2 linked regions of the Homo sapiens genome follow. The protein of the gene in region 2 interacts with the protein of the main gene of each other region in a biochemical or structural test. Each region holds a gene or a part of one and is shown on either strand. Other genes may lie near its edges.

What was found.
Region 1: the proteins of CACNA1B (region 2) and RXRB form a complex in vitro, tested with the Homo sapiens proteins (one study listed by BioGRID).

What each region holds. Positions count from the first base shown.
Region 1 is NC_000006.12:33,193,070-33,195,675, reverse strand, and holds the end of RXRB (retinoic acid receptor RXR-beta), read left to right. Parts: coding exon 1-106; intron 107-209; coding exon of another isoform or gene 210-221; coding exon 222-313; intron 314-625; coding exon 626-731; intron 732-846; coding exon 847-994; 3' UTR 995-2,088; downstream 2,089-2,606. UniProt on the Homo sapiens protein: Receptor for retinoic acid. Retinoic acid receptors bind as heterodimers to their target response elements in response to their ligands, all-trans or 9-cis retinoic acid, and regulate gene expression in various biological processes.
Region 2 is NC_000009.12:138,059,049-138,062,865, forward strand, and holds part of CACNA1B (voltage-dependent N-type calcium channel subunit alpha-1B), read left to right. Parts: intron 1-30; coding exon 31-141; intron 142-605; coding exon 606-689; intron 690-3,817. UniProt on the Homo sapiens protein: Voltage-sensitive calcium channels (VSCC) mediate the entry of calcium ions into excitable cells and are also involved in a variety of calcium-dependent processes, including muscle contraction, hormone or neurotransmitter release, gene expression, cell motility, cell division and cell death.

The sequences.
Region 1 (2,606 bases), on a different chromosome or scaffold from region 2:
TCTCACACCGATCCATTGATGTTCGAGATGGCATCCTCCTTGCCACAGGTCTTCACGTGCACCGCAACTCAGCCCATTCAGCAGGAGTAGGAGCCATCTTTGATCGGTCAGTGGCCCTCGGCTAGGCTGGCATGTAGATAGAGGGGGTGGGGCTATAGGCTGGTCCGTGTCCAAGGCTGGCTGAGCTGTGACCTTTGAGTGACCTGCAGGTCCCTCTCCAGGGTGCTGACAGAGCTAGTGTCCAAAATGCGTGACATGAGGATGGACAAGACAGAGCTTGGCTGCCTGAGGGCAATCATTCTGTTTAATCCAGGTAAGAGGAGGATTACCTTTGTCTCTCAAGGCCAAGGCAACCTTGGAGCCTCCTCTTCTCCGAGACTCCTAAGTTACCCAGCTATCCCCCTCAGTAAGACCCTCAACCTGGAAATCTCCCAACTGGCCGAGGAAAAACCCACATCCACGGATCCATCCCACAAACCCAGTGGGCCCTGCTTCCCTTGCCAGGCCTCTGGTAAAGGGCAAGCAAGTGCAGCCCAAAAGGGGCATCCTGTGGCTCACATCTGCATGGCCATCCTGATTTGGTTTGTCTTCATTTCTCTTCCTCCTCTCTTCCCTGCCATCCCAGATGCCAAGGGCCTCTCCAACCCTAGTGAGGTGGAGGTCCTGCGGGAGAAAGTGTATGCATCACTGGAGACCTACTGCAAACAGAAGTACCCTGAGCAGCAGGGACGGTGAGATGGGGCTGGGGGGCACTGAGGCTCCCTTGGGGGTGGGGAGTGCTATGAGGATGTGTTCAGGGCCCGTGTGCTTCCAGCTCTCAATCCCCTTCTCCCACCTCCACCCCAGGTTTGCCAAGCTGCTGCTACGTCTTCCTGCCCTCCGGTCCATTGGCCTTAAGTGTCTAGAGCATCTGTTTTTCTTCAAGCTCATTGGTGACACCCCCATCGACACCTTCCTCATGGAGATGCTTGAGGCTCCCCATCAACTGGCCTGAGCTCAGACCCAGACGTGGTGCTTCTCACACTGGAGGAGCACACATCCAAGAGGGACTCCAAGCCCTGGGGCAGGGTGGGGGGCCATGTTCCCAGAACCTTGATGGGGTGAGAAGTACAGGGCAGAACCAAGAACATAAACCCTCCAAGGGATCTGCTTGATATCCCAAGTTGGAAGGGACCCCAGATACCTGTGAGGACTGGTTGTCTCTCTTCGGTGGCCTTGAGTCTCTGAATTTGTCGGGTTCTCCCATGATTTGGGGTGATTTCTCACCCTCTGTCCTTCCCCCAGCACAAAGCACTGGCCTTGCCTCCAGGACCTTGCTTCCTTCTCATCTTGCCTCATTTTGCTTCCCATCTGAAGAGTGGAAATGGGGAACTCCCCCAGAGGTGGATACTGGGGGGCAGGCCTCCCAAGCTGATGGACATGAGAGTAGGGCCCTGACAGGCCTTCCTCCTCTCAAACCTGGCAGATGGGGGCCTCTCTGGAAGAGGGAGGGGCCCTGTCACTGTCCAGAGTCTCTTTTTACACTTCACCTCCTTCTGCAGTCAGACTGAAATATAAAAAAGGTGGTGGTGGTGGTGAAGGGGCTGGTGGAGATGTAGGAACCGATCTGCTATTTTTAATTTCCTGTGAGGATAGAGACTTGCAGTTAGACTCAAAGAAGTACTGTACTTTCCCAGGTTGACTAAGAAATGCCAGTGGTGGAGGTGGGTGTTTGGGAAAGGCAGGGCCCTGAAATGGCCTGTCCCTAGGGCTCTCCAAGCACTAGCCTTCCCAGCTTCCCGCCGCCCCCCCTATCTCTTCCTGTCTAACTTGGGGAAGGGGCCTGGGCTGTGAGGACAGGGCCCCCACAGGGGATGGTTTCACGAGTGTAGTCCCGGAGGCCTTCCCTTTACAGCTCTCCTCCAGCCCTGGGCACATAGCATAGGCTGGGGACACAGGATCCTGGCCTGAGAATTGAGGGGAGGTGGCCAGCCCGCAGAGGTGGGGTGCTGGGGCTGCATGATTTTTGCCCTGCGTCCCTTCTCTTTGGGGCTCCTTTCCCCTCTCATACATAAAATCGCTTTCAAATTAAAATCGCTGTTTTCTGGACTGAGGTGACTGTATGAGGATGGGCAGCGCCGTTTCGGGCTTGGGGGGGGTATCCGGTTGGGAGCTCCGGACGCGATCCCTGGACGCCGCCGCCGAGGTTCCGTGGGGCCCAAGAGGTGCACGCAGGGTGGGGGACACAAGGCAAGCTTTGTCGGGGAGGGGGGGAGAGGGTGTGCCAGGCTGGGGGCGGGGCCGGCCGGAGGAGGAAGGGGGGGCGGTGGATTCTCAAAGGCGCCTTGTTCGCTCGTGCCCTCTCCGCGCCAGCGGGCGGCGGCGCCTCGGCTCGCTGCGGCCTTCCCTCCGGGCGCGCTGCGGGCTCCGGGCAGACCCGGCGCCGTGCCCGCTCGTGGGGGCGCACTGGGCGCCGAGCGCTGCGTGCTTCTCAGGCGTTGCCCGCCCGGAGGCGGCCCACGTCCCCGAGTGACCCCATTTCCCTGGACCCTTCCAACCAGAGTCGACTGCTCGCTCATCTTACCACTGCTCCCCCTCTACCTCGGCTCTGGGACTCCCTAACCGCG
Region 2 (3,817 bases):
CATGGCCAACAGTGCCTATTCCCCGGGCAGTTCTATGATGCACCCTATGAGTACGAGCTGATGCTGAAATGCCTGAACATCGTGTTCACATCCATGTTCTCCATGGAATGCGTGCTGAAGATCATCGCCTTTGGGGTGCTGGTACGTGCTTTGGTCCCTGCTTTGCCTTTTGACAACCTATATTCTGGTTCCCCATCTGTAGGGCGACCTTTGGGGGCTCACAATTTGGAGCTGGGAATTCTCCGAGTACCCAGAGTATATGTAATGCTACAGGGGCCCTGGGGAAGGGGCTGTTCTGAGACTCTTGGCTACATAAGCTCTGCCCCCAGCCTAGGTCCTGGGAGGGAGGCAGGGCTGGGTTCTTCCTCTTTGGACACATGGCTCTTAGTCCTGCCTCTGCCCAGGCCCAGAGGTATCTGTGTCCCTGGCTTTGACATCTGCTTACCTCTGGCCTTGTGCTGTGCCCCCTGGGGTGGCCTGTCTGCCCTGTGCTCAGGGTCTATCACCCTCACCGCTTTCTTAATCAGGGCCACCACCTATATATACCTCTTTGCCAACAGAGCCCTCATCAGCCGCTGGCACTAACTGCTCTTCTTTTTCTCTAGAACTATTTCAGAGATGCCTGGAATGTCTTTGACTTTGTCACTGTGTTGGGAAGTATTACTGATATTTTAGTAACAGAGATTGCGGTAAGTAGCATTTCTGTCCCTCCTTCAGGGTCCCCAGGTGGTTTCCTTCTAGAGCCTGCTCCCCTCAGTGCATCTCCAGGCCCTGTGTTAGCCTCTTCCTGGGTTCCGCAGAACCCCCTGGACATGTGGAGGCTTCGCTCCAGGGGTGGAGTTTAGGGATTGGGTGTTACCTCAGCAGATGTTCTTTCTTGAATAAGAAAGTGGTTCTCAAAGATCTTTTGGGCTGCTGGCCTGAGAGTTACCTGGAGCTCCATGGTAACAACTAATCAAGAAGATGTGAATCTTAAATTTGTATCTGTATAATATGTATCTAACAAGGTGGTATCAAAAATATATAAACTGAAACCAGTAAGGATTTATATTTCAAAATATTGCCCCCCACCGTCTCTCTATCTCTCTCTATATATATCTGGAAATACTCATTCTTACCAAACATATGTGGATTATGTCTTAAAATTGACCAGTGCTGGGATATAAACTTGTCTCAACAAATTTCAAAGCATCTGAATCATAAAGCAACATTCTTTGAGTACAACACATTACACTGGAAATCAATGGCAGAAAATCTCATTTGTTTGGTCTTAGGTTGAATTCTCGAGAAGCAGACGCAGACACGAGCACTCATGTGAAATTTATTTCTTAAGTTATGTTCCCAGTAGAAACCAGCAGAGGGGCATGGGGAAATGGGTGGGAAGAGAAGGACCAGAAATCCTGCGTCCCAAGCCAAGTCCTGGTGGGTCAGTGTGGGTCATCTCCCAAGGGACTTCTGGCAGCAGCGTAGGTCGCACCTCAGAGCTATCCCTGCTGGAAAGGGAGCTGCAACGTGTTTGCCTCTGCACCCTCCGCACGGCATTAGGCTGAGGGCTGCACCTGGGGTGTCAATTCTCAGATGCTTCCAGCTCCCTGAGTGTGCCACGAGTGCTGCACCCAAGCTGTTAGGGCTGAAGGGACGTCTGACACCATCAGAGGAGAACCTGCTGGAGCACCAGGCTCCTTCCTGTTCTGCCCACACTTCACATTGGGTTCACTGTGCTCATTCTTTAGGATGGTGCTGGTCATGGTCTCTGGGAGACAGAGCGGAGCTCCGTCTGCTGTGCTGGTCCAAGCAGAGCTGGTGTTCATCATCCCGTTCCCCCCACCCTTTCTAGAGCCCCTGAGCTGATGTTCATCATCCCGTCCCCACCACCCTTTCTAGAGCCCCTGTCCTGTGGCCAGCCTTCTGCTGCACTGGTTGCTGGCCTGGTGGGATGACCCAGACCCTCAGCCCTGCGCATCCCAAGTCCCTACTTGTTGCCGTTCTTTTTCCAACCCTGGCTGCCGTGGTAATCCAGTCGCAGTGAAGACTGCGCACAGGAGCGTGTTCATAGGAGCATGGAGAAAGGCCCAGTGAAGCCCCTGATTCCCAGAATTATGCAGTGGCAGCTCTGCCCTTCACAGTAATGAGGGTCAGATGATCTGGCTGGCATGGAAACTCTTTGTGATGCCTGCTGGCCTTCTGGCACGAGCAGCCCCAAGTGACCAGGTGGCCACCATGGCTTTGGTGTTGTGTGGTAGAAGCCTTCTCCACCTGTTTGAACCAGGGCCTCTAGATTTGCCAGACCTAAAATTGGGGAAGATGAGCGCAGAGTTCATACTGGGTTTCTGGAGCGATGGTGAGACAGGCCCCTTCTTCTTTCACCATTTCCTCCATCCATACATTTTACTGATTGGGCACCCAGTACCATCGATTGGCCGTTGGTTCATCTTGAAATATGGCACCCCAACCCCATGAAGTGTATCACCAAGCCGGCATTTTATCTCTGCCTTTAAGGTCAGGGCAGCGTCTCCTAAGTGGTGTTGCGTTAGATGATCCAGTGGACCCCGCGGTCACCTGGCTCACATGCATCCCCTGCGTGTGCTCCAAGCTGATGTTATATGGAATCCTGTGTTGGTAAATCTCTGAGATGTTAGTGCCGGCACGGTACTGCACAAGGAAAGGCAAACCCACACCTGGGATGTGGGTGGATCCCAGATGAGACAAATCACTGCCCTTTCCAGGAGAGGGTGTTCTGATATAATCAGCTTACCACTAGGTGGCTGGTTGACAGCCCCAAGGCATGGCACCAGATGGAAGCCCAGTGTTGCTGTCTGTTCATTCCCGGTAGATAATCGTCAGTGGTCATGACTGGATCATGCTGCTGAGAGGCTCTTGGCCACGATGGTCACCCTATCCAGAGGTCTGCTGTGTGGACACTGGGGCTGGTGAGGACAGAGGCTAGCCAATATCTGTTGGTCGACTTATCCCAGTGCTTGGTTTTTAGTGCCCCATGGTGAGCATTGGTTTGCAAAACAAAGGCCTGTACCCCATGCCTGTTCCCAAGGCCCATCTGTCTGCCTCTCACCTAGACCTTGTTCCCTCCAGGATCCTGACCAGCCGTTTGTGCCTGCCTAGGACCCTGTTATCCTCAGCACAGGCAACTTGTTTTCCCCCCCACACAGAGCTGACCAGATACCCTGCCCAGGGCTCTGCTCCACCTCTGTCTTTCAGGCTGTTCCTATGTGAGGCTGTAGTGAGGCCTGCACCAGTATACCAAGCAACCCATCCACAAATCAGGTCTGCGTTTCCCCCTAAGTTGTAGTGAATCCCCATGAAGTGATGGCGGGAGTGAGGTGAGGACGTCATTGGTCAACAGAGGTGCGTGTCATGGGGGATTGGGCCACATGTTGTGTGCTGTGTCCTCTAGACATGCTTGGGTTCGGTCGTAGAGGTACCCCTTCCATTGTTCACTGGGCCTGTGGTGGGTCTGACAGCACATCACTATGGGGAGATGCTTTGGTGTCATAGACAGCGATGTCTCTTGGTGACACACACAGCTGCCACCAGGGCCAGGAAGTAGGTTGGCCCCTCTCATTATGCTTCCGTTCTGTAGATGGCATGGCCTGCTCCCAAATGCTGGGTGTCTGCACTGACTTCTCTGTGGAGGCTTTCCCAGGACTTTACCCAGTATCCTTACCTACCACATACACATCAAGGACCCTGGGGGTTGCTGGGTTTTGTGGCCCAAGTGGCAGGGCCACTGCTATCACATCCTGGGTCTGTTGGAGACCTCACTTGTGCTCTGAAACCTCTCAAGCATGGCAGCGTCTTG